4 linked regions of the Homo sapiens genome follow. The protein of the gene in region 1 purifies or fractionates together with the protein of each later gene. This does not show direct contact. Each region holds a gene or a part of one and is shown in the gene's direction. Other genes may lie near its edges.

Region 1 (5,421 bases):
AAATTGTTAGAAAGCAGATACCATCAAATTGGTTCTGGGAAGGTAAAGCCATTTAAGCACTTTAAATGAAAATTTAAATAATTGAAATAATTTCTTGATGTGGAGAAAAATAAAATGATTTAATTTTAGAACTTCGGTAAAAATTATACTTTCATGTTTTTTGTTTATAGTGTGAAATCAAAGTTGCACAACCCAAAGAGGTATATAGGCAGCAACAGCAACAACAAAAAGGTGGAAGAGGTGCTGCAGCTGGTGGACGAGGTGGTACGAGGGGTCGTGGCCGAGGTGAGACTTAATTCTTGAAATATGACTCCGTGGTTTATTTAAGCTGTATACTGCTGAATATGAGTAGTCCTGTACCAAAGCAAAACTTTAAACTTAAAACCATTCCAGCGGAGGGGGGACTGTTCAGCTTAGTGGAGGTTGTGTGTGGTGGTTTTTTGTTGTGAGCTCACTGGTTTCAAAAAACTGTTAAAAGTGTGGCCACTTTGACAATTAGTGTCATCACTGATAGGAAAAGTGTACCATTACATGATACACCGTGGTGTGATAGGTTTTCTTGGGCAGGAGTCCTTGTTTTAAACAGAACAGTGTACCTGTCTTCGGCTTTAATGGAAAATTGAATGATTTTCCATTAAGTTTAGGAAGTTTGATACTGGCACAATTGGACTTTCTGCCTCCTTTTTTATAACAGCTGGAAAAATAGTTTTTCAAGCAGATAGCAATATATATGTCCATTCTGCCCTTTAAGATTTGCAGAGTGAGAGACAAGAACGCATCATTTTATGTTAGAATTGGGGGTCAGAAGTTGTTTCCTAACAATCATTGTGCATTGTTTCAGGTCAGGGCCAAAACTGGAACCAAGGATTTAATAACTATTATGATCAAGGATATGGAAATTACAATAGTGCCTATGGTGGTGATCAAAACTATAGTGGCTATGGCGGATATGATTATACTGGGTATAACTATGGGAACTATGGATATGGACAGGGATATGCAGACTACAGTGGTAAGAATATTTAACTTAATTTTATAAAGCAGTGGTATTAAAATTCATTGTTAACATACAATCCTGTTCTGAAATTGTGTGTATGGGCTTTCCATTAAAGTGTTCGGAGTTAAGTGTTTGAGGCATGTTACAATCATAGGATGATTATACTAACATAGACTGGTGGTTATAAATGAACTAGGATGTATGATTTATGAGTAGCATCTAATGGGTGCTAAAATATCTTAATACTTTTTATTTAGCATGCAAAGATTTGTAGATTTAATAGTTTGTGTTTGTAAAGAAAGTTTTGTAGAAAACTATCTTAATGAGAATTCTGTGTTTTCAAAATAGGCCAACAGAGCACTTATGGCAAGGCATCTCGAGGGGGTGGCAATCACCAAAACAATTACCAGCCATACTAAAGGAGAACATTGGAGAAAACAGGTGTGTATAAGAGTACAGGAAAACAGTAGAAATGTCTAATTTAATTTAAAGATCAATAGACAAATGAAACGTAAAAACAAAATACTATGTAGCCTGTTTTTACTAAATTGTTGATTTTTTAATTGCTTTATGAGCCTGTTTTGCCTAAAGTGTCTATAGATCTTTAACTTTAAAGTCTTATCTCACTTTCTTTAGTATTGCAGAAAAACTTAAGAGTTTTTCTGTTTGCTTTTGTGTACCAGGTGGTCTAGAGGAATAATTAAACATTTTAGAACTATTAACAGGTAAAGTACTGAAATGGGTACAACTTAAGGAAAACAAGAATGTTGTCTTCTAACTCTGACATTATACCTTGTTTGTACCCGCCAGCGGGAACTTCATTGCAGGCCGTGTGTCACCCTGACCACGTCTATCTCTGGGGGTCGCACGTTGCGGGCAGAGCGCAAGGCATACACCAGAAAACGCTGTCCTGTGGTATGGTCTCTTCCAACTTCATGTACCAGCGTAAAGATTAAAGTGGAAAACTTCAGACTTTGGCTTCATTTTTAATCTTTTTGGAGATTAAGTGTCTAAACTTAACTTAAATGGTTTTTTACAGGAGTTAAAGTACATAAATGCCTTTTTACAGCTTAATCATTTTGGTCTTCTGTTTAGTGTTGTATTTCAATTGTGGAGCCTCATTTTAAGTGTTCATTCTTTTAAGATTTAATGCTTGCTTTTTCTTTTTATAGCTAATAGTGAAATCTACAAACCAAAACAAGAACTTTTAAATCTGGGATATAAATTAAAGATCATATGCACAGATCAATTTATGTTCTTGTAATAAACTTATTAGAAATTGGTGTTTGTGATAGCATTTTACTTGGGTTACTAGAGATGCTTCTAGTAGACCTTAATCTAGCATAGTTGAACCTCTGAATATGGGAAGGTTGTATTCCCAGATTCTTTCCTGAATAGATTTGAATTTAATGTCATTTGGGAACTCCAGGGTGAGTTTATTGACTACCCAAACTGTATTTTACCAATAAATATGCATATGATCTTTAATTATTGAAGAAAATAAAGTGAGGACTTAAAACAATTCATGAAAGTGGACCTTTAAAAGCTTGTCAGAGTTGCACAAATCTAACTGGTATTTTGTTTTTGTTTTTAGGAGGAGATGTTAAAGTAACCCATCTTGCAGGACGACATTGAAGATTGGTCTTCTGTTGATCTAAGATGATTATTTTGTAAAAGACTTTCTAGTGTACAAGACACCATTGTGTCCAACTGTATATAGCTGCCAATTAGTTTTCTTTGTTTTTACTTTGTCCTTTGCTATCTGTGTTATGACTCAATGTGGATTTGTTTATACACATTTTATTTGTATCATTTCATGTTAAACCTCAAATAAATGCTTCCTTATGTGATTGCTTTTCTGCGTCAGGTACTACATAGCTCTGTAAAAAATGTAATTTAAAATAAGCAATAATTAAGGCACAGTTGATTTTGTAGAGTATTGGTCCATACAGAGAAACTGTGGTCCTTTATAAATAGCCAGCCAGCGTCACCCTCTTCTCCAATTTGTAGGTGTATTTTATGCTCTTAAGGCTTCATCTTCTCCCTGTAACTGAGATTTCTACCACACCTTTGAACAATGTTCTTTCCCTTCTGGTTATCTGAAGACTGTCCTGAAAGGAAGACATAAGTGTTGTGATTAGTAGAAGCTTTCTAGTAGACCATATTTCTTCTGGATTGTAATAAAATTGTTAGTAGCTCCTTTTACTTTGTTCCTGTCTCTGGAAAGCCATTTTTGAATTGCTGATTACTTTGGCTTTAATCAGTGGTCACCTAGAAAAAGCTTTGTAATCATAACACAATGAGTAATTCTTGATAAAAGTTCAGATACAAAAGGAGCACTGTAAAACTGGTAGGAGCTATGGTTTAAGAGCATTGGAAGTAGTTACAACTCAAGGATTTTGGTAGAAAGGTATGAGTTTGGTCGAAAAATTAAAATAGTGGCAAAATAAGATTTAGTTGTGTTTTCTCAGAGCCGCCACAAGATTGAACAAAATGTTTTCTGTTTGGGCATCCTGAGGAAGTTGTATTAGCTGTTAATGCTCTGTGAGTTTAGAAAAAGTCTTGATAGTAAATCTAGTTTTTGACACAGTGCATGAACTAAGTAGTTAAATATTTACATATTCAGAAAGGAATAGTGGAAAAGGTATCTTGGTTATGACAAAGTCATTACAAATGTGACTAAGTCATTACAAATGTGACTGAGTCATTACAGTGGACCCTCTGGGTGCATTGAAAAGAATCCGTTTTATATCCAGGTTTCAGAGGACCTGGAATAATAAAAAGCTTTGGATTTTGCATTCAGTGTAGTTGGATTTTGGGACCTTGGCCTCAGTGTTATTTACTGGGATTGGCATACGTGTTCACAGGCAGAGTAGTTGATCTCACACAACGGGTGATCTCACAAAACTGGTAAGTTTCTTATGCTCATGAGCCCTCCCTTTTTTTTTTTAATTTGGTGCCTGCAACTTTCTTAACAATGATTCTACTTCCTGGGCTATCACATTATAATGCTCTTGGCCTCTTTTTTGCTGCTGTTTTGCTATTCTTAAACTTAGGCCAAGTACCAATGTTGGCTGTTAGAAGGGATTCTGTTCATTCAACATGCAACTTTAGGGAATGGAAGTAAGTTCATTTTTAAGTTGTGTTGTCAGTAGGTGCGGTGTCTAGGGTAGTGAATCCTGTAAGTTCAAATTTATGATTAGGTGACGAGTTGACATTGAGATTGTCCTTTTCCCTGATCAAAAAATGAATAAAGCCTTTTTAAACAAAATCCAAACTTTTAATCAAGTCTTGATATGTATGACTGAGAAAAAATACACTACATCTAGAGATGATTGAGATGTTTTGCAAAGAATTGAAGGGGGAGTGAGAATTGGTTTTTCTTGCAGGGGCTTTGAACTCTAGATTTGGGCTTTGAACTCTAGATTTAATTCAGATTTCAGGGTCTATCAGTTCACCAACTGATGCAAATTTGAACAGATACTCTAAGGCTAAGTGTCCTAGGTTGGATGAACTGAAGCTACTATCAAGATCTCGTTCCCAAGGATTAATTTAGAACAAAGTAATTGGACAAGTTTATTGGGGAGGGGATAGAAATGAATTCTAAAGTACCTATAACAAATACTCTGTGTATGTTTTTTACATCGTATTTGCCTTTTACATTGTTTAGACCAAATTCTGTGTGATGTTATCCTCGGGAAGAGGATAGAAATTAATTCTAAAGTACCTATAACAAATGCTCGGTTTGTATATGTTTTTATACATCGTATTTGCCTTTTGCATTGTTCAGACCAAATTCTGTGTGATGTTATCCTAACAAAACACCTTAGTAATTTCTTTGGTTAACATGTTAATCTGTAATCTCACTTTTATAAGATGAGGACTATTAAAATGAGATGTCTGTTGGGATGCTAGCGTGGATAAGCAGAGCTTATTCCATTACTCTTCAGTGGATCTTTATTTTCATAATGGCAGAGATCCTCACTAATCTTCACAAAACTTAATACAAGGGCATATCTGAACAATTAAGCTACTTTCCAGTACCAAGATTTGATTTAATGTCAATCAGGATGCTAGGCTGCGTGCTGTAGATCATGCCTGTAATCCCAAGCACTTTGGGAGGCCAAGGCAAGTACATTACTTGAGTCCAGCCTGGGCAACATGGCAAAACCCCGTCTCTACAAAAACTACGAAAATTAGCTCGATGTGATGGTGCACACCTGTAGTCCCAGCTACTTGGGCTGAGGCGGGACGATTGCTTGAACCAGGGAGGTGAAGTGTGCAGTGAGTCATGTTTGCGCCAGTGCACTCCACCCTGGGCGACAAAGTGAGACCCTGTCTCAAAAAATCACAGGATGCTAAACTTCACCAATTAAAAAGTTGACTAAGCTGGCCGCACGCAGTGGCTCATCCCTGTAATCCTA
Region 2 (7,027 bases), on another chromosome or scaffold:
CAGAGAAGTTTTTTTAGGGCAAGGAAGTAGAATTAAGTTACACGCTATGGGCATCTTAAACTTCACTAAATGTTACTAAATTGTTTTCTAGCATGATTATGCCACTTAATCTTCCCATCAGCAGCACATGAGGGTTCCTGCTCCTCATCTTTGGCAATACTTTTTATTAAACTTAATTTTTGTCCATCAGATTGTATGAAATTCTATCTTGCTGATATTTTATTTCCCTGACAAGTGATATTGAAGTTTTCTTGTTCTTGTTGACCTTTTTGATTTCTTTCTTTGAGAATTGCCTGCTAATACTCTTTGTTCATATTTCTGTTGGATCATTTGTCTGTCTTACTGATCTGTAATTCCTTTTGTAGTCTAGAACAAAGTGATTCTTAGCTGAGGGTTTTGGTTACCTTCTTTCTCTCAGTATTTGCCTGTCTTTGCATTTTGTTTATAATGTCATGTAGAACCTTTGAGTTTTAATGTGAACAAAATTTATCAGTCTTGTTTGTAATTTCTGTGGTTTAAGAAAGTTTCCTTACCATTTCTGTTTTCTTCTAAAAATCATTGTTCTTTTTTATTTTTAGGTCTTTAATCTACCAGTGCAATTTTTATATAGGATGATATCATAGGAATTATCTTTTCCATTGCCTGTTGTCTCAACAATTGGTATTAAGCCATCCTTCCTTTCCTAGTTATAATAAGCCCCCTTTGTTGTATACTATGTAACTCTTCTATCAAATTGTGTCTTATTCCTGTGTTTGTGTGAATCTTTTTTTCTGTTAATCTCTTTCTATGCCAATACTACACTTAAATTATTTTTACCTTACTGTGAATCTTGCTATGTCTGGTAAGACAAATCTTTCCTCTTATTCTTAAAAATTACCTTGATTTATTTTGATTATTTGTTTTTTATTTTTTCTAACCTGTTTAATTGTTTCTAGTACTGTTCGATTTACAGAAATTCAGTTTGGTTGTTCAGTTTCTTTTCAAGGAAAAGAAGTAATGTAGACAGCCAGTAGATCTCAGTTTCTTTTTCTTAAACGTTTTTTAATCTGCTATACTTCATGAAAGTAAAAGAAATCTTACAGTTTTACAGAAAAATCAAGCTAAATTTTGTTTCTGCATTTTGTTCAAATAATCTTGACCTTTTCTCAGAGTTTCAAGTTATTTTTTCTCATCATTCTAAACATGCTTACTTCTGTCTTATATTTTTGTTTTATCTCTTAATTATAACCCTTCTGTTATTTCTGATCATCACACATAAAATTTTTGCCTTAACCGTCTTAAACTTTTATTTGGAAATGATTTCAAACTTACAGAAAAGTTACAAAAGTAAAATTGTACAAGGAATACCTTTTACCCAGGTGTACTTTTTGTTAACAGTTACTTGCTTTATCATTTGTGCTCTTTCCACACACTTTTCTTTTTTTCTCTTTTTTTTTTTTTTTTTTTTTGAGACAGAGTCTCACTCTGTTACCCAGGCTGGGGTGCGGTGATGCAACCTCGGCTTACTGCAACCTCCACCTCCTGAGTTCAAGCAATTCTCCTGCCTCAGCCTCCCAAGTAGCTGGGATTACAGGCCTGTGCCACCACGCCTGGCTAATTTTGTATTTTTTTTTTTTTTTTATTGAGACAGGGTTTCACCATGTTGGTCAGGCTGGTCTTGACTTCCTGACCTTGTCCACACACTTTTTTTTTTTTTCTTAAACCATTTGAAGTTTCATATTAATATGACCCTGATTAAATGCTTCAGTGCTTTGTCTTTTTTCTTTTTTCTTTTTTCATTTTTTTTTTAATGAAAAACACTGTGGCTTGGATTATAGGAACCTCTGTCCAAAATGGTTTATATTTCCTTCTGCCAGGAGCCACAGAGTAGGTATCACTGACTTGGACAAATTTTTTGTTTTCTTGTCATAGGGGTTCTTTATGTGGGTAGTAGGAATTTGAGGTGCAGGCCCATTGTTAAAAATTCTCTGGGGCACCAATTTCTACAAAGTGCTCTGTCCCTATTCCAAACCCAGGCAGACATGACCAAGCTTCCTGCTATCTCGCAGGGAAGATAAAATACCACTGAGATATTTCTTGGTCTTTTTTCCTGATTCACCTTTTGTTTAAGATACCAGACCTTTGAGGGTCCCAGGTTTGTGCAGGTGAGGTTGGGCATGGAGCATGGATTTCATTTTCCTGTTTCACATGGGGCCCAAGACCTTGCTTTCTGGCTTTCTGTGGGTTTTAAAATCCAAGCCCCTTAGTTACCGAGACCAACATCATCTGTCAGCCTCCCAGCTGCAGCAGCTGCAGTTTATATATGGCTTTCAGTTCCTTCTTCATTTGTGACCTGATGACTTGGATTTTCTTTTTTGTGAACTTATCCATACATTTAAAAGAATGCCTGTCTTTTTGTAGCAGGAAGGTTTTACTGTTAAAACGGTCTCTAAATTGTCAAAATTGGGTATCAAAATGTCCCCAGCCCTTGAAGCTGGAGTTACGGTTTTATACAGACTGACACAGTCTTGGAAGAACATGGCTTTTACCCAGTCTAATATAATTGCAAAATTTCCGTTGGCTTCTGTTCATAAGAAACTATAAGGTAACTAGTCTTAATATATACTGATTCATTTTTTTATTCAGAGGTTAGGACTTCATAAAGAAATACTTAACTTAAAAGGTACCCAATAACTCTTCCTAAGACAATTGGCAGATAGGTGTAATATCACCTGTATTACCTTGGAGGACCCAATGAAAGGAAAGTTGGCAGAGCTGAAACGTTTACCAGGTAGCTGCCTTCCCCATCTCTCTGGGAAGAAAGGGAAGGAAAATCCCCCATTGTTAAAACTTTTGGTAGGTTAACTTCATCTGAGGAACAGAGACCAATTGTTGTTACCTGCTTTCTTTACTTCCTTGTGGAGGAGTACAGAGGGAGCTGGAAACCAGTAGTATTTGATTAATATCTTTCCAATGGAAGGACTGTTCTTCCCCAACAGTTATATAACCATTATTTTGTCTGATGGAAAGCAGCAGTAGAGGATATAAACACATTGGCTATGAATGTACATCACCTACAGTGGCTTTGATTTCCAACTTATATCTATAGTACTATATGTAATTACTTTAAGATTTCTGAGCATGCAGGGGGGCAAAAGTCATAATATTAAAAAACATTTAGGGGTGATTGGTCATTTCATGTGATATTTTTTCAGTATTTAGTTTTTCTCCTATGTTGTCTTACAGATTACCAAGAGAAATACCAAGAATTACTTGAAAGAGAGGACTTTTTTCCAGATTATGAAGAAAATGGAACAGATTTATCCGGGGCTGGTGATCCGTAAGTTTTCTTCAGTTACTAACTTCGTGAAATTTCTGTGTCTAATTTATAGGTGGAGATTAGACAAAGTAGCTCATGAAGGAATGGTGTTTGGGGCCAGGCGCAGTGGCTCGTGCCTGTAATCCCAACACTTTGGGAGGCTGAGGAGGGCAGATCACTTGAGGCCAAGAGTTCAAGACCAGCCTGGCCAACATGGCGAAACCCTGTCTCTACTAAAAGTACAAAAATTAGCCAGGATCACAGAATCACAGCTACTCGGGAGGCTGAGGCACAAGAATTGCTTGAACTTGGAAGGCAGAGGTTGCAGTGAGCCGAGATCGTGCCACTGCACTCCAGCTTGGGAGACATAACTAGATTCTGTCTCAAAAAAAAAAAAGGCATTTTGATTTGATGGTGCTATGTGGTAGTGTTTATGTACTAAAAATTTTCAGAAAATTGTATTAACTCACAGACTAGTTCTGAAAAATGTATAGTTGAGGAAAATAACCATTAAAATATAGTATACTTAAGCATAATTATTTTTTTAAAATAGATTCTATTGTATTTAGACTTTAAGAAGCTCTAAAACTTACTGTAAGATCTTGGGCAACTTCTGTTCTGCTTCTCCATCTATAAAATAAGAATAGTAGTACCTGTTGAGTCTTTTTTTTTTTTTTCTTGAGAACTACATGAGAATACATAAATACTTAGCCTTCCGGCACACAGTAGAAGGCTCAAATCTTAGCTATTAAAGGGTAAGTTAAGAGTAAAGAAAACAGATTACTATGTAAAAATGTTTGAACTGATAAGAAGATGTTAATTATAGGACTGTTTATATATCTGTTTCTTCACCTGCCACTCTTTGTAATTAAAGATCCCTTTAAACATATTACTCACTTACCATCAGAGTGCACTACATTTTCTTATAGAAGGACCAGGAAATTGTGAGGTTTAGTACCAATTCTGTTAACAACTTGTGTATATTTGGACAGGCTACTTAGTTTCTTTTCTTCCTAAGTAGGAGATGGGAGGGAATAAATTATATCTTGAACTTATTTTTTTTTTAATATCTCCTGTGTTGTAGATTTTTTTAAAAAAGTGAACCACTTTTATTCTAGTGATATTTTAATTATGTGTCGGTTTGAGATCTAGAAATACAATTGTTGCTGTACTTCTATATTCTAGTTTAATAGAAAACAAAAAAAATACAGGGATTTAAGGACCCAGGCAGAACTAGGAAAGTTCCATCTACTTGGGTATACCGCTGGAAGATAAAGTTGTTCTTGGCATTGAACTTCAGGTTATCCTCTTAAGTTTATTTGGTAAGCATCATATTCTCTTGCCCTAATGAGCTCATGGTTATTTCAACACATGGCCCTGTATTGGAAATGGGGAAGAAACAGAAAAGGACTCATCAGCAGTTGGTAGGGTTGGCAAGATTGTTTTTTCATGCTTGTAGGTGGAAGGGATTGGATTATTGGAGGGGTGGGGAAGATGTTGATAGAATCATGTTATGGAGGAAAAGGGGTAAGACCTGGAGTCAAATTCTGGCCCCGCCACACACTTAAAATTTTACATTGTTCATTTAACCTTCCAGAATCTCTTTATTTTCCATCTCCAAAATGAAGATGATCGTAATGCATATCTTTTTAAGATGGCTATGGACATTCAGTAAGAATGTGTAGATTAAATCCTTAATTGACACTTTAAATCTTTCCCGCCATACTTAACTATGGGAAGCCTTGCTTTCCACCATTTTAAACTACCTAATAGTTGGAAAAAAATCTGGAATAGATGATCTCAAAAGTAGCTTCCTGTGAAAATCTGATTCCAAATAAATGGGAATGTGACTAAATTGTCATCATGGGAATAACCCAGCAGAAATCATAGCAGGAATAGCACTTTCTGTTATTAAGTAGACACAAAATATTAGTGCATCACTAGAGGTGAATGGCATATTTGAAATTATGTTCTATTAATAGTTATATTCTAATTGTTTGTTGGTAAGGTAAATTTATTAATATCGATCTTGAGCCCCAAGTTTATATGTCAAGCCTTTGATTAACTTTCAGGTTATAGAATTTAACTTATGTCTAAAAGTATATATATTCTTTACTATAATTTCACACACAAGGGACTCAGAATCTGTAAAATTTTACTTACCAAATTAAGCATTTGGTTGTCCGAAGACTGCCATTAATGTAATTCTAAAGTTAGGCTTGTGTTCTATTATAAGTCAGTCTAGGAAAGTTGTATTACATTATTTTTTTCATGATTTAGCATCTTACTTTCTGAGTTGAAAAACCTTACACTTATGAATCATCTTTGCTTTTACAGATACTTGGATGATATTGATGATGAGATGGACCCAGAGATAGAAGAAGCTTATGAAAAGTTTTGTTTGGAATCAGAGCGTAAGCGAAAACAGTAAAGTTAAATTTCAGCATATCAGTTTTATAAAGCAGTTTAGGTATGGTGATTTAGCAGAACACAAGAGAGCAAGAAAATGTCACATCTATACCAAATTAAGGATGTTGAGTTATGTTACTAATGTATGCAACTTTAATTTTGTTTAACACTATCTGCCAAAATAAACTTTATTCCCTATAACTTAAAATGTGTATATATATATAATAGTTTATTATGTACAGTTAATTCTACTGTTTTGGCTGCAATAAAATCGATTTTGAAATAAATGAAATGTTGAAAATTTTGCTAGTTGGTTAGATGCTTATCCTTTAAATTCTACTTTTCTTGAGGGGAAAAAGTCTTCTTCTGGAAATACATATTACTGCAAAAATGTAGCATCCTTTTTTAGGTAGGAGTATTATAGCTTTCATTTTAGTTTGACATTTAGTGTCCCAATGAATTGAATTTCAAATATGAATCATAATCTTGAAAATCTTTAGCACTAAAGTCTTGGAATATATCAACAACTGATTTACATATGCAGATGCTATTTGATACCAAGGGCTTTTTAAATGTCATGGGGGGGAAAAACCCAACTTGGTGAACTCCCAGCTAAACAACCAAGACTTCACTGAAGATTTATTCCAATTCTAGAATTGTTCTTTTTTATTTTTATTTTTTCAACTGACTAACTTCATTACCTTAAAGGCTAGAACATTATTCTGCTTTATTTATATGGCTTTCTCACTTTTATTTTGTAGCATGGGTTGCATCGACTTTTTTACTAGAGAATTTTACTAGATATTTGTCATTCAAGTTTTCATCTGCTTTATAATTGATACACCTTGAGGGTCACTTTTCTAATACTTTTACTATAATGTGGTACCACCTCAGCCCTAATAAATAATATTTTTACCTAATGTCAAATCTTTTTCCAGCTAACTAAAAACTGTGTACAAAAGGATTGCTTGTAAATATGCATGTAAATAGTTCTGTTAATAACCCACTGTTTTACATTTGGTACATCTGTGTCTGCTAATACAGTTAGCTTTCTCACTTTTCTGCTTGTTTGTTCAGTCTGAATTAAAATTAGACTTTGAAAATAAAGCTTAAATAGTTGTTTCCTCTAAATTTTTGAAGTAGCATCTGGTATTTTAAATAATTTGCTGTTGAACTTAAATGACATAATTAATTTACTTAATGGTTTGAAATCAAAGAAATCATATTAGAAGATATTTTATTCATTCTCTGAATAAGAATTCAGTAACAAGTCTACCTTGAAAAACTAGCAAATATAAAACATTAAAACTTTAAAATTCC
Region 3 (7,644 bases), on another chromosome or scaffold:
GTAGCAAGGCTGTGTCTCTACAAAAAGTTAAAAATTAGCCAGGCATGGTGGCATATGCCTGTAGTCCCAGCTGCTCAGGAGGCTGAGGCAAGAGAATTGCTTGAGCCCAGGAGTTCAAAGTTAAGTGAGCTATGATCATGTCACTGCCCTCCAGCCTGGGTGACAAAGAGATCCTGTCTCAAAAAAAAAAAAAAATCATTCAGTACATGCATGACAAAGAGCTACTTGAAACAAAGCCACACTTTTAAATTTTTATTGAATTGCAATACCATCTACACCTATTTGCTGTGAGGGACACATTTATTTGGCCCAAAGACAATGTTTGATGCACATGTGGATTTGAGGGTCCTCTGCTGTCAAAAGGGGGTTCATGGTCCACAGCTTAAGAAACACAGATGCATAATAAATTCATGCATTGAGTAAGCAGAGGTCAGAGTGATAAGCTTCCCAGTATCAAAATTATATAAACGTAGTCATTTATACACTATGTGCCAGTCCCGTAATGTGTGATGTTAAGGTCCCTATGGTCCAGTATGGGCACATCAGGAAGCTTGCGCAATCTCTCCCTAGTTTAGCCCTTGGGCCTTTGGCCCAGCCTGCTCTGTATTTCTCTGAAGCAAGATCCTGAGGTCTGTGTGGTGTCATCTCCCAAAGTAGGCCCCTACCTTCTCCCCAGCCCCTGAGGCTAGCTGCAGAGAAAGTGTTTGTGACTGCAGCTTCTCACCTTCCCATGAAGCCCCAGGACACAAATTTGGGAACCTTTTGGCTCTGCTGCTAACACAGCAAACAGGAGGCTCCCAAATTACCACACCAGGGATGTAATTAGGGTCTGTAATAGGGAAGTCCTTGTACTAATGGACTGTAGTTAATTTATAATTCCTGACTCAGGAAGTTGCTTTTGGCTTCAATCCTCTGGCTCAGTACCCCAAAGGTAGTGATTATCAAACCACCCCCACTTCTGATTCTGCCTTTACTAAGCAACCAATGTCTGAAAACAATGTCCAAGCCCATGAGTAGATGGCAGTTTTGGGGGAAAGAGGGGCATTTTGCATTTCTGAGAACCTCTCTAATTTTCCTCAGGAAATATGACCTGTAAAAATGGATTTTGGTAATTAACATTAAGGACATGCATAGTGCTGGCAAACCTTGTCTCTGAAATCACAGATGATGAGAAACTGTTGTTTGGAATCATTTCAGTGAGAATGGAACATCCCGGTCTTGCCTGAAGACTCCGCATGGGGGTCATTTCACATCATTCCACACAAAGACACAGCTTCAGCATCAATCCTCCCCAAGGGCCAGCACTCCACATTTATCTTAACTTTTATAGTTCTAAGGAACAAGGACCCTGAGTCTGTTTCTCAGCCCTGCTGCTAATCAGAATGTGATGTTCCTAGTGAAGCCTAAAATAATGTTTTTAATAGGACATGATTCTCCCCAGACCACACGACTCTTGTGAGTGACTGACCAATAACATCTCCAGCCCCTGTGAACATTCTCCTGTCTCCTGAACAAAGATTACTGAGAAAAATTCCTAAACTTCCCTTGCTTCAGGACAGCACCCAGTCCACAGCTGACACCACTTCCTCTGATCTCTCCTTAGACTCACTGAGCATAAGCACGAGCCCTAAACAAAGCCCCTTCTAGTCCCTCTTCCTGAGCTGCTCCTCTGTCCTCCATAGCATGCAGTCTCCCTTGCTACAGCGAGTTAATAAAACTAACTTTGGGCCAGGTGCGGTGGCTCACACCTGTAATCCCAGCACTTTGGGAGGCCAAGATGGGAGGATCACAAGGTCAGGAGTTCGAGCCTAGCCTGGCCAACGTGGCGAAACCCCGTCTCTATTAAACATACAAAAAAATTAGCCAGGCGTGGTGGTGCACGCCTATAATCTTAGCTACTCAGGAGGCTGAGACAGAAGAATTGCTTGAACCCGGGAGGCGGAGGTTGCAGTGAGCTGAGATTGCACCACTGCACTCCAGCCTGCGTGACAGAGCGAGACTCCGTCTCAGGAAAAAAAAAAACTTTGACCACACGTGTTCCTGGTTGTCTTTTTCTGATGGGCTTTATCATAATGACTGGGTTCAAGCCATTTCCTCTCCATGAGGTCAATTTGTAGACAGATACTAATTTCCATATGATTACTACATGCCAAGCACTATGGTATATAATTTGTGCTGCATATTTTATCCAATTTTTCGAGACTCTGTGAAGAAGGTATCATTCCCTCATTTTACAGATGAGGAAACTGAGGCTCAGATTAAGAACTTCAATAGTACACTGCTAATAAACAGAAGAGGTGGAATTAAATCTAAGTCTTTTCTAGTGGGGTATCATGCAGTCAAACATAAATGTTAAAGACATTTATGAACAAAGGGATGAGGGGTTTCTGAGGGGCCATCTGAGAGAGTAGGGGGAGATATCTTAATGCTTAAGGTATGTCTTACAGAGTGAGTCTGAGTTTGTCATATGAAAAAATGGGAAAAGGGTGCTCTAAAAAGAGTAGTGGCCAAGCACGGTGGCTCACACCCGTAATCCCAACACTTTGGGAGGCTGAGGCGGGTGGATCACTTGAGGTCAGGAGTTTGAGACCAGCCTGGCCAACATGGTGAAACCCCGTCTCTACTAAAAATACAAAAATTAGCTGGGGGTGGTGGCACGTGCCTGTAATCCCAGCTATTTGGGAGGCCGAGGCAGGAGAATTGCTTGAACCCTGGAGGCAAAGGTTGTGGTGAACCGAGATGGTGCCACTGCACTCCAGTCTGGGTGACAGAGCGAGACTCCATCTCAAAAAAAAAGTATATGCAAAGCTTGGCATTGAAAGGATATGGTGAGGTTGCCAGGCATGGTGGCTTATGCCTATACTCACAGCTACAGTGGGGTAGATTGCTTAAGGCCAGGAGTTTGAAACCAGCCTGGGCAACATAGTGAGATCCTGTCTTTAAAAAAATTAAAAACAAAAATTAGCTGGCCATGGTTCCACATGCCTGTAGTCCTAGCTAATTGGGAGGCTAAGGCAGGAGCACCGCTTGAGCCCAGGAGTTTGAGGATGTAGTTAGCTATGATTGTGTGACTGTACTCCAGTCTGGGTGACAAGAGTAAGACCCCATCTCTTTAAAAAATAAAAATAAAAAAGGGTATGGTGAGTTTGAAAAACAGCAAAAAGCAGATAAAGCGAAAATGATTGTAGTTGATAGAAGGGCAGCATGGAGGATGAAAAGAGTAGAAACAGACTGGAGACAGGAAAGCCAGGTAGGAGGCAGTCTCTGTAATTAGGCAAGAACTAATGAGGGTGTGGACTAAGGAAGAAACAGTGGAAATGAAGACAAGAAGCTGAACTCACAGAAACATTTTGGAGGTCACATAAGCAGGATTTTGACAACAGATTCGTTTGTTGTATGAAGATCCTGGACTGAATGAAGTCTAGGGTTTGGGAGTTTTGAAGGGATAATGACCCATTAAATGAGCTGGCAAATACAGGTGGTAAAGCAGGTCTGGGATGTTCAGAGAAGGGTGGGAACACGGAATGGATGCCAGAAGCTGGGAGAAAAGCCAAGTTCATGCCTGTGGAAAAATGGAATTGAGGATGGGGCTAAAATTGGACAGAGGAAACTTAATCTGTAATGTTTTTCTTCTTTTCAAAAATAACTTGAAGTGGTTGTACATATCTGGTGTGATATACACAAATGCTTAATTTCTCTATTTTTAAAAAACTTCCCAAAATTAGTGCTTGGAATTATTTAAAATAATGTAGCAAACATTTTTGGAGTGCCTGCTATGTGTCTGGCACTGTTTCAGGCATTTGAAATATTTGCTCTCTATGAAGCCTTCCTTTCAGCAGTTAGCAGGCCTGGAGTTCAGAAGCCAGAAACTGGCTTCTGATTCTGACGCAGTCAGTAAGTGTATGACCTGGGCAAGTTGCTTCCCTGCGGCGTCCCACGCCCCCAAAACCCCCCACCCCCCCACCCGTGCCAGGAATCTATCGCAGTTCTCAAGTCCTGTGACTTAATACCGCAGCTGGCACCTCAGAATTCCTTATTCTTACAGAGCTGGTCCCCACAGTACCGCCCCTGGGCGTAAACTCCTCCATACAGGGAGTGTAGATGATGGGCTGACCTAAGAACGGTTTCCAAATGGTCCTTTACACCTCTGCCTCCCACCCCACTCTAGCCCAGGATAACAGATTTTCCTCGCGCAATTTCAAATTTGCAAGGGAATCTTGAATATTTTCTGGTAATGAGAGAGGGTAGATTATATGTCCTAATCCCAGCCTAATCAGATTAACAGCAACTTCTGGACATTCAGTACCAGGAACTGTTTTAGGTGCTGTGGAGAGAAGAGTTAAAAATGAAACAAAAATTATTGCCTTCATGAGCCTCACATTAGTGGACAGAGTCCAAAAAAAAAGTGACAACGTAATGCGCTACTGCGACACAAAGCAAAGCAAGGTGGGCAAGCAACACTAGTTCTTTATTCCCGCACGCCCTAATCCCCAAGTAGCTCTTCCGGGTCACTGCAGTCTTCACGGGCTCCAGACTCCGCCCATGGTCCGTCCTTCAGGCCTTGACTCCGCCCACGCATCGACGTAGAATTTCCCGGCCGGGCTCCATGAAGTACCACCCACCCGCGACGCCGACGCAAGGCTGCTGCTATGGGGCCGGGCGGCCGTGTGGCGCGGCTGCTCGCCCCACTAATGTGGCGCAGGGCGGTTTCCTCGGTGGCGGGGTCCGCGGTTGGAGCCGAGCCCGGGCTTCGGCTGCTGGCCGTGCAGCGGCTTCCCGTAGGAGCAGCGTTCTGCCGGGCTTGCCAGACCCCAAACTTTGTCCGCGGCCTGCACAGCGAGCCTGGGCTGGAGGAGCGGGCGGAGGGGACGGTCAACGAGGGACGCCCAGAATCGGACGCGGCAGGTACGGGCGTGGAGAAGAACGAAGGCGACCCTCTCCGGGCAGTCTGGAGTCAGGTCCCAGCCAAGGTGGCTCTGGGTTCCCCTCTATGTGCATTTCTCTTGGAGTCACAAAACTCCTGCACATCCAGAGCTGGAAGGGACTTCAAAGGTTGTTGGCGCCAACCTTCCCGTTTCACAGTGAAGAAATTGAGGGCAAGAGATGAACTGCAGAATCCCAGCCTCCCGGACGGCCATCTCCCACCCTTGGCATCACAGTCTCACCGTCCTCACTTCCTTTTACCCTCTTCCTAGGATCCTGGGAAATGGGTTTGTGGGGACTGTTGGGGCTTGAGGATTCTGAGGAGCCAGGGTCTGGGTGCGAAGGGGTGCGTAGGAAGCGCCAGTAGGAGATGGGTCCAAGTTAATATCCTCTAGTTATTGCTGACGTTTTTAGAAACTTAAGAATGGTAAACAGATCACATCTAAGAATGTAGAGTATGAGAGGGAGAGGCCTTAGTGGGCTTAGCTACTAGGTCCTTTGGAGTCGGCTTTAGAACTTGGGCGAGCTTTTAAATTTACAGCCTGTAATACTCCAAGCTGAAGATCAGAATATCTAAATCTTTACGGGAAAAAAAATTAGATTTTCATAGGTAACAGTTGTTAATAACCCGGTGGTTTTATATGAAAACTGGAAGGTTCAAAATAATAATTACTCAAAAATGTAGCTCTTTCAGTGACTGATCTTAGGCCACAGTAATTCTCCTAGGCCTCAGTTTCTTCATCTCTCAACTGAAGGTTGTGGACCAGATACTGCCTAAGAGCCCTTCCAGCTCACAATTCTGTGACCCGTTATGACTGAGATTCAATTTAATATGCTCCAGGATATCACCTCCTACCCATTTTGTGGTGCTGTTTTTCTTTGCACAGCATTTCTGTGATTGTGGTGTATTGCTCCTTTTAAGTATTAGTAGAAAGTCATTTGTCACTGGTGTCTGGTTCTACTTGCATATGGTTAATAGCGAAGGATGTATAGTGGCTCTGCGTAATCTGAGCACCCTGACCATAAAAGTTGAGCGGTGCTATGATACTACTGCCCAGGTTCACCTTCCAGGAGGCCTTTACCCTGCTATCTGTAAAAACACTTTGGATCTAAACACCCTCATGGAGGAACAGTCAGCTGCCGGCATCTCTGGGTGCATACACGTCTATCTGCTTGGCCATCCTGATACAAACAACTATTTGTGCATTTCAGATCATACTGGTCCCAAGTTTGACATCGATATGATGGTTTCACTTCTGAGGCAAGAAAATGCAAGAGACATTTGTGTGATCCAGGTTCCTCCAGAAATGAGATATACAGATTACTTTGTGATTGTTAGTGGAACTTCTACCCGACACTTACATGCCATGGCCTTCTACGTTGTGAAAATGGTAGGATGCTTTCTTTTCTCTTTTGGACCATTAACTGAGTGGAATAGTGACAGTGCATCAGGCCAAGGAGCAACACTTAGAGGGTAAACCCATCATACAAAGTTACAGAAGAAGCCCAAATTTTCAGAATTTGCATGAATTCATTTTATGTTCTTTGATAGTGAAACATATGGGAGCAAATATCCAGCCCTATTGAGTTAGGATATATCAAAATCTTTTCTCTTGTGACCGCAAGGAAGATTTTTTTTTTTTTTCTAATTGAGATGGAGTTTTGCTCTTGTTGCCCAGGCTGGAGTGCAATGGCGCGATCTCTGCTCACCGCAACCTCCGCCTCCCGGGTTTAAGTGATTCTCCTGCCTCATCCTCCTGAGTAGCTGGGATTACAGGCATGCGCCACCAGGCCCAGATAATTTTGTATTTTTAGTAGAGACGGGTTTCTCCATGTTGGTCAGGCTGGTCTCAAACTCCTGACCTCAGGGGATCCGCCTGCCTCAGCCTCCTAAAGTGCTAGGATTACTGGCATGAGCCACCTCACCCGGCCGGAAAATAATATTTTATAACCTGAGGCAAGCTAGAAGACAGTATAACCAGAGGGATTTCTAGAGGCACTATCCATTACGGTAGCCACTAGCTACATGTGCCTATTTAATTATAAATTAAAATATAAATTCAGCCGGGCGTGGTGGCTCAAGCCTGTAATCCCAGCACTTTGGAAGGCCAAGGTGGGTGGATCACAAGGTCAAAAGATCAAGACCATCCTGGCCAACATGGTGAAATGCCGTCTTTACTAAAAATACAAAAATTAGCTGGGCATGGTGGCGTGTGCCTGTAATTCCAGCTACTCGGGAGGCTGAGGCAGGAGAATGGCTTGAACCTGGGAGGCGGAGGTTGCAGTGAGCTGAGATTGTGCCACTGCACTCCAGCCTGGTGACAGAGCCAGACTCTGTCTCAAAAAAAAAAAAAAAGATATAAATTCAGTTCTGCAGTTATATTAGCTATATTTCAAATGCTCAATAGCCACGTGTGGCTAATGGCTACCATATGGGACAGCCATAAAGCATTTTCATCATTGTAAAACGTTCTATTGGACAGTGCTGGCCTGGAGTTTCATTCAAAGATTTGAGCATGTCCAGTGTTCCCAAGCACTGTACGGGGTATTGGGAAGGTAAGAACAAAAAAGATGTAGTCCTTGCCCTTACAGGTCTAGTTGAGGAAAGAAAGGGGGATTGTTTTCCAGTTGCACTGAATATGAATCAGAATGAGGAAGAAAGTACTTGGAAGCCTCTAGCTGACTCTGGTACCATTCCACGGGGCCATGATACCTTTCTTA
Region 4 (7,952 bases), on another chromosome or scaffold:
CCGGCCTGGAAAATGAAAGATTTTTAAACCCATAAATATCTCAAAACATTATCCAGCCATATGGTATGGGACCAGGTGCATAAAGTTAAGGCAATGCTGAGACCTCCAGGTTATTCCACTGGCTACAACAGCAGCCTAAAAGAAAGAAAGAAAGAAACTTGGGGTATCCTTCTCTAAACTCTAATATAGAAAGGAAATGCATATCTAGTAACATGTTTCTTTGTCTAATTATCCTCCTACAATCAGCATCTTAAAATAAGCTAATCTCTTATAAAAAATTTTTGGATGTTAATATGACCATCAGCTCAAAAAGCATTAAAGCCACTTCAATCAAGGGACACAGACTAGGTTTCAAGACACTTAGCTCACATAAATTTCTATAAATTTTAATAGAACTTAATGGTCTTTCCATTTTTTTGTGTGGGAAGGGTAAGCATTATTGATTTTACATTTTAATACATTTTAGGGGCATGATGAACCTGGACAGTAAAAGCATCCTTCCTTCGCCCTACCTAATGCAGAGGAGCTTCCTGAAAGAAATTAGTTTGGAATGAAAGGGGAGCAACTGCCTTGCAGGTAAGGATGGGCAGAGTGGGAGGATCTTTAGGACTTTAGATGTAGGTTTCAAGAAAAACAGCAACATGAAAGTCATGTGTGAGAAGATGTAATTATGAGGCAGATTGAGTTATAAATTATTATACAAAGACAACAAAGACATGAAATCAATCTTTAGAAATGATTCTTCCCAAGTAATAGGAGATAGGAATGTCATGGAAATACTTCAACTGGAAGAAAAGCCATGGAAATACTTCAACTGGAAGAAAAGCCATGGCCTTTCTGCAATAACCTACAATTTCTTTTTCTTTTCTTTCTTTTTTTTTTTTTTGAGATGTTGTCTCACTCTGTTGCCCAGGCTGGAGTGCAGTGGTGCTATGTCGGCTCACTGCAACCTCCGCCTCCCAGGTTTAAGTGATTCTCCTGCCTCAGCCTCCTGAGTAGCTGGGATTACAGACGCCCGCCACCACGTCTGGCTAATTTTTGTATTTTTGGTTGAGACGGGAGTTTCACCATGTTTGTCAGGCTGGTCTCAAACTCCTGACCTCAGGTGATCTGCCCGCCTCAGCCTCCCAAAGTGCTGGGATTACAAGCGTGAGCCACCATGCCCGGCCGTAACCGGGCATGGTTACGTAGGTTTACAATTATAGGTTTACAATTTCTATTTCTTGTTCCTATCCACTCCCTTTTGCATCTGATGTCACCAATAATCTTCTCCAAGGAAAAAAAAACAGAAAACACAAATAAGAATTATATTTTATAGTGATTATAATGATCAGAATTCCTCAGACTTCTTTCTGCTGTCATTTTGCTGTGATGTTCGAGCAGCTCATATTTCAGCCCTAATCAGATCTCTGCTGTAATCTGAATATATATTTAATACAATGCTAGAGATAGAGAAATTTTCAAAGTTAAGTAGAGATCAGTTAAAATACCATTACTGTTTACTCTGTGTCTTTTGAATTCTATTATATTTATATTTGTTTACATTTTGAAAACCAAGCCATTTAAAACAGGGATCCCTTCAAAGAGAACATTTATGTGGCATTTTGTTGCAGGAAAAGGTAACTGTAAAACACATGTGCCTCTAATTCAAGGCCAGTTAACCTCAAGTTATTACAGTTGAGATAAATCATATTTTTAAAAATACTTTTTAACCCTTGTTCACTCACTTTTTAAGCCAATAAAAACAGCAAGAATTAACTTGGTCACTTTTTTGTAACCCAAATGCAAACCATGGGTGCAATCCCATAAAATTTTAGCCACGGATATAATTCCAAAGGTTTGAAAGTCCCATCTTCTTTATTGCTCCTGTCTTTGGGACAAAGCCCAATTTCCCCTATAATACCAACACAAATTATAAAAAGAGAGTAATTGATCTCACTGTATTTTCCAAACTTGTTGCTTGTTACTGTCATTAAGCTACTGTCAAGTCTCATCTAGCACCTCCTGTGACACCACCTTCTTTTTTTTTTTTTTTTTTTGAGACGGAGTTTGGCTTTCGTTGCCCAGGCTGGAGTGCAATGGCATGATCTCGGCTCACTGCAACCTCCACCTCGTGGGTGCAAGCAATGCTCCTGCCTCAGCCTCCCAAGTAGCTGGGATTACAGGCATGCGCCACCATGCCCGGCTAATTTTGTATTTTTATTAGAGATGGGGTTTCTCCATGTTGGTCAGGCTGGTCTCAAACTCCCAACCTCAAGTGATCCGCTCACCTCAGCCTCCCAAAGTGCTGGGATTACAGGCGTGAGCCACCGCACCCGGCCCGACACCACCTTCTATATCAGACTTTGCTGCCTCTTCATGAGATGCAACTAAACTTAAGAGACAAAGCAGAGCTCAAATCTATTTTTAAAAGACTTTATAATAAATTGTAATCCCAGGTAGAAATTTTCTATTTCTCATTATCCACAAAATTCTTCTCCATTAAGCACAGGTCATCAAGTAACCCTGACATCAAGTAACCCTGGCATACTGTTGTAACAAGTAGGATTTTCAAATTACTAACACACCTGTAAAAGCCAGAGAGTTGTGTGTCACCAGAAACACATGTGTGCCCTATGTATTAAGGTACTAAATAGAAAGCACCATTTGCTGTGTGTGTGACAGTACTGATTCCATGTTAGAAGAAAGCTTGCTTACTTGAATACAATTATTACTTTGCTTGATTTTGTAGATCATTCACTAAAATCAGCCTCAGAAAAACAGGATCTTGAACAGAGATAAAAGAAAATACCTAGATCAGCCTCTCTGTGAATGGGCTGACCGACCTAATAAGAATAGGCTGATGGTACCTGCAGAAAGCCACAAAATATTGACCAAGAAAGCAATGATTTACTGCCGACCTGAGACTGCACACGTTTCACAAAAATCTTTTTATCATCCTTTCTCTTAATTGCCCTTAAAAACCAGAGGTGGTCTTTGAACGCTAGCTCACTGCATCCCCCAGGGTTGCTGGTCTCTTGAATAAAGCTAACTTTACTTTCACTACAGCTCTTCTCTTGGGTTTTTGGCTTTCAAGTGACAAGTGGCCCAGATGTGAGTTTCCTTACGTGTGCTCAGGAGAATTTCCTGCCATACCTACTGAAATCTGTCCCTGATCAAAGTGGTGGACCATATGACTGCAGATTGGCCTTGCGAAGTAGCTCATGCCTGTAATCCCAACACTTTGGGAGGCAGAGGTGGGAAGCTTGCTTGAGGCCAGGAGTTTAGGACCACCCTGGGCAATACAGTGAGACCCCCGTCTCTACAAAAACAAAAAATAAAAATTAGCCAGGCATGGTAGTCCACACCTGTAGCTCCAGCTACTTGGGAGGCTGAGGCAGGAAGATCGCTGGAGCCTAGGAGTTCAAGGCTGCAGTGAACCATGATCCTGCCACGGCACTCCAGTGTGGACAACAGAGTGACACTTAAAAAAAAAAAAAACACTGAAGATCAACAGGTTATGATTGCAAATTTTAAGATATTTTGAACACACTATTTTCTTAAGCAGTTGGGAGTATGTTTAATAGCCTATTGAATGAGTATCTCAAAATCCTATTGAAGTTACTATTTGGCAATGAGAAACTAATTCACTGATAATTATACATGCAAAGAAACTAATTATTAAAATAAGTTTTCATTTTGTTAGATAACTTTATAACGTTAAAAAATGGAAAAGTCCTGTAGGGAATGATTTGGAACATGGCCCAGATCCCAGTCACAGGACCAAGGCACTCAATCCCCCAGCTGCTGGGAGTGTTGGTTGCTTATTGCTCACAGCTGAGTCCCTTCCTGCACATCTCACTCTCCAAAAGCCTTAACCCAGCGTTTTGCTTCCTCCCCAGAAACATCCCACATTTAATGAGCAGTCAGTAAGAGGGTCTAAAGGTCTGCCCCCTGGCCTCAATTCAGGATGACTCTGAAAGGAAATCCCGGCTCCAGAGCCCTTACTGGATTGCCTGAGGCCTCTATTACAAATTGTTCACAGTTCAACTTCTTTCTCCCTCCGCCCAACCCGGCCTCCCTCACTCCATTATAGGTGTTGTTCTTAAGAGCACACTCCAATTACCCTCCTGCAAACCAGTCTCCCCCCCAACTCAGAGTCCAGGGAATTCTACCTAAGACGATTTTGAAAGCGGTCCTAGAAATCAGGCTCTAACATGGGATTTTGAAGCTAGATCACCTGCCAGCCAGCTGCCAATAAGAACCTCATCCCTGGTCAGTATTCAGAGCACCTGTCACGCTGCACGATGTGATTACTAACTTGAATCCACTCATGCTAAGCTGTGTCCCAACCTAGTTAACTGTATTTAAAATAAATAAACCACAGGACTTGATGCATGTACTTTATTGCACTGAGTTTTTCTTGCTATACCTTGGACAAGACTGCCACCTCCTGGAAGAGCCGATGAATACTGGGGACGAGGTGCAATTAGGGAATCGGTACTATGAAATTGCTTGCGTCTCAGCAGCAACTCCCTATCTCTCCGCGAACTTAAACCAATTCCTAACCTTTCTCAACCTCTGTGAACAGCTTTTTGCATGGAACCAAGACTTCAAAGAACTTGCGCATCACAATCTTTTTACGTGAAAATGTAAATACAAGTTAGCATTTGTGAAGCGTTATGTGCCAAATGCTTTAATTTTTAAGGCTCACAACAGCCTTATGAGGTAGGAACTATCATAAGCAGATCCACACTGCTGATGGAAAAATTAAGTTTAAGGGAACGTAAGGCGACGGCTCTGAGGCGGAATCGCCACTTGGAGTCGGGACTCAACTGCTGAGAGCGCAAGCTCCGTAACTACGTAACCGTCTCGGGCATGCGCAGAAAAACACTGAAGCACCTTCCCTAGGAGCTGTAAGTAGGTGGGTGTGGTGGGAGCCTCTGCAATCCCAGCATTCCCTTCGTGCCGCTACCAAGATGGCGGCGCCCATCTTGCGGTCCTTTTCCTGGGGCCGGTGGTCTGGTACCCTAAATCTCTCAGTATTGTTGCCCTTGGGGCTGCGTAAGGCCCACTCGGGCGCTCAGGGGTTACTGGCAGCGCAGAAGGCTCGAGGTCTGTTCAAGGACTTCTTCCCGGAGACGGGGACGAAAATAGAGCTCCCAGAGCTCTTCGACCGTGGCACGGCGAGTTTTCCCCAAACCATTTACTGTGGCTTCGACCCCACGGCAGACTCGCTTCATGTGGGTCATCTACTTGCGCTGCTGGGCCTGTTTCATTTGCAGCGAGCGGGCCACAACGTGATCGCGCTGGTGGGAGGCGCCACGGCGCGCCTGGGAGACCCGAGCGGCCGTACCAAGGAACGCGAGGCGCTGGAGACAGAGCGCGTGCGAGCCAACGCGCGAGCTCTGCGCCTAGGGCTTGAGGCCCTGGCGGCTAATCACCAGCAGCTTTTCACTGATGGGCGCTCCTGGGGCAGCTTCACTGTGCTGGACAACTCGGCCTGGTACCAGAAGCAGCACCTGGTGGACTTCCTGGCGGCAGTGGGGGGTCACTTCCGCATGGGGACGCTGCTGAGCCGGCAGAGCGTGCAGCTGCGGCTCAAGAGCCCCGAGGGCATGAGCTTGGCCGAGTTCTTTTACCAGGTGCTCCAGGCCTATGACTTCTATTACCTCTTCCAGCGTTATGGATGCAGGGTCCAGCTGGGCGGATCTGATCAACTAGGCAACATCATGTCCGGATATGAGTTCATCAACAAGTAAGTGCCTTTAAACCTTGGGGAAATCCTGGGACCAAATAATTTACACACTAGTAGCCTGTGATTCACTCTTAGGATTGTAGTTGCTGCCCTTCGTTCCAGCTCTTGTTGGTTTTATCCCCATTAAGGCTCTATAATGGCGTTAATAACACTGGCTAATAAGAATTAAAGGGCTGAATTAAGGGTATTAAGAGTAAACGGTGTATTCTAAAAATTAGCTGGGCGTGGTGATGCACGCCTGTAATCCCAGCTATTCGGGAGGCTGAGGCAGGAGAATCTCTTGAACCCGGGAGGCGAAGGTTTCAGTGAGCCGAGATCGCGCCACTGCACTCCAGCCTGGGGCAACAGAGGGAGACTCCGTCTCAAAAAAAAAAAAAAAAAAAAGGGAAACAGACCACTAGTGAAGATTTGGTCGGTCTGTTTTGCTTCGCCTAAGTCGTCCTCTCTAATTAGAGAAACTGCTTTTGTGTGTTTATACCAGAACGTGACTGGGCCTCCTTGAGTAGCTAGCCTCTGCTTTAGCTCTGCACCCTCCATGAAACTAGTGTTAGTCCTTGGTTGGTATCTCAAAAAGTTTTTTCAACTCCAAATAATTGACAAGTAATGCGGGTCTAATAGCATTTTCTTGAGAGAGGTGAAGGATAGGGCTAGCTCATGTGCAACAGAGCAAAGCACATGTTTAAAAGGCGTTTAGAAGATTTCCTTTAGTGTCTCTTCCTGACACCCCTTCACCCAGTTTTCTCCTTCCCACTCAGCCTTTCAAAATCTCTAGTCCATTGTTATGTAGCACTTCCCCTTGGCCTGCCTAGAACCTGCCTGGAACCACTCATGAGGTTCAGAATGAATAGAGTAAGTACTGTAACAATACATAAGAGGAACAAGAATTCAGATTTAGGAGGTCAAGGAAGTTTTCCTGGAGCAAGTAACCAGAAAGAAATCTGGAAGGTGAACAGTAGAACCTACCACCACTTGTGCTTGAGGCACATAATGAAATTGTTCTTTATGCGTAGGTTGACTGGAGAAGATGTATTTGGAATCACCGTTCCTCTAATTACAAGTACAACTGGAGCAAAGCTGGGAAAGTCTGCTGGCAACGCTGTTTGGCTAAACAGAGATAAGACATCTCCATTTGAATTGTATCAATTCTTTGTCAGGCAACCGGACGATTCAGTGGAAAGGTGAGTTCTGAATAATGGGCTGAGAAAAACTGACACCATAAACTCATGATGTAATTTTAGCCATTGAATCTATGTACATTTTATAGTTTTTTTGTTTTTAACGTAGTTTCTGTCTGTACATAAACCATTACATCATAGAAGACTAATTTTTACTGTGTTCTAAAGTTAAACACTTTGTTGGTTAAAGCAGAAAAACAGTGGGTGGCTAGAAAATGTAGAGCCAACTTTTTGATCTGTATCTAGCAAGTTCTTAGGATTTTATCACCTGCATATTCTAGTTTTTTCACTCCTTTCAACTTAACCTTGACTACCCTTATTTTTCCTTTGTCTCTCTTCTCTCACAAATATGACTTTAAAGATCCTCTTAAGAAATGATTTCTCCTTAAATCAAATTGCCTTAAACTCTTGGAAGAATATGAATTAATGAGAAACAAATATACCTGCAACAAAAAGTGAAAAAAATATTTTGATGCTCTGTAACATCAAAGTAATCTAGGAATAATTCTTTAAGACTTAAAAGGTATATGACTTTCCTGCAAAATATTAAAAGATGCTATTGAGCAAAATAAAGACCTACATAAATGGAGAGTTAGACCATATTCATAGTACAAAAATAATATCAGTTCTTTTTTGTATTTTTTGAAACAGAATCTCACTCCCATTGCCCAGGCTAGAGTGTAGTGACGCAGTCTTGGCTCACTGTAGCCTGAAATTCCCAGGCTCAGGTGCACACCACCATGCCCAGCTAATTTTGTATTTTTTTTTTAGTAATGGTGGAGTTTCACCTTGTTCCCCAGGCTGGTCTCAGACTCCTGGACTCAAGCGATAAACCTGCCTCAGACTCCCAAAGTGCTGGGATTACAGCATGAGCCCCCGCACCCGGCCAAGATACCAGTTCTGGATTTGATCTACATTTAGTACAGTGCCAACCATATCTAAACCGGCTTTTTGTGGAACTTGACAAGCTCATTGTAACACTGACATAGAAATAAAAAGGGCTAAGATTGGCCAAGATGTTTTTGAAGAACAGAGTGGAA

What was found.
Region 2: the proteins of HNRNPDL (region 1) and PAIP1 purify together in Homo sapiens (affinity purification with mass spectrometry; 3 studies listed by BioGRID and IntAct, with this or other methods). This does not show direct contact.
Region 3: the proteins of HNRNPDL (region 1) and MALSU1 purify together in Homo sapiens (affinity purification with mass spectrometry; 3 studies listed by BioGRID and IntAct, with this or other methods). This does not show direct contact.
Region 4: the proteins of HNRNPDL (region 1) and YARS2 purify together in Homo sapiens (affinity purification with mass spectrometry; 3 studies listed by BioGRID and IntAct, with this or other methods). This does not show direct contact.

The regions. Positions count from the first base shown.
Region 1 is NC_000004.12:82,422,054-82,427,474, reverse strand, and holds the end of HNRNPDL (heterogeneous nuclear ribonucleoprotein D-like), read left to right. Parts: coding exon 1-42; intron 43-170; coding exon 171-285; intron 286-841; coding exon 842-1,012; intron 1,013-1,345; coding exon 1,346-1,416; 3' UTR 1,417-1,438; intron 1,439-1,807; exon of another isoform or gene 1,808-1,912; intron 1,913-2,591; 3' UTR 2,592-4,906; downstream 4,907-5,421. UniProt on the Homo sapiens protein: Acts as a transcriptional regulator. Promotes transcription repression. Promotes transcription activation in differentiated myotubes. Binds to double- and single-stranded DNA sequences. Binds to the transcription suppressor CATR sequence of the COX5B promoter.
Region 2 is NC_000005.10:43,526,078-43,533,104, reverse strand, and holds the end of PAIP1 (polyadenylate-binding protein-interacting protein 1), read left to right. Parts: intron 1-3,225; coding exon 3,226-3,319; intron 3,320-5,635; coding exon 5,636-5,729; 3' UTR 5,730-6,838; downstream 6,839-7,027. UniProt on the Homo sapiens protein: Acts as a coactivator in the regulation of translation initiation of poly(A)-containing mRNAs. Its stimulatory activity on translation is mediated via its action on PABPC1. Competes with PAIP2 for binding to PABPC1.
Region 3 is NC_000007.14:23,294,704-23,302,347, forward strand, and holds the start of MALSU1 (mitochondrial assembly of ribosomal large subunit protein 1), read left to right. Parts: upstream 1-4,635; 5' UTR 4,636-4,649; coding exon 4,650-4,905; intron 4,906-6,135; coding exon 6,136-6,314; intron 6,315-7,644. UniProt on the Homo sapiens protein: Required for normal mitochondrial ribosome function and mitochondrial translation. May play a role in ribosome biogenesis by preventing premature association of the 28S and 39S ribosomal subunits.
Region 4 is NC_000012.12:32,752,881-32,760,832, reverse strand, and holds the start of YARS2 (tyrosine--tRNA ligase, mitochondrial precursor), read left to right. Parts: upstream 1-4,935; 5' UTR 4,936-4,958; coding exon 4,959-5,737; intron 5,738-6,747; coding exon 6,748-6,915; intron 6,916-7,952. UniProt on the Homo sapiens protein: Catalyzes the attachment of tyrosine to tRNA(Tyr) in a two-step reaction: tyrosine is first activated by ATP to form Tyr-AMP and then transferred to the acceptor end of tRNA(Tyr).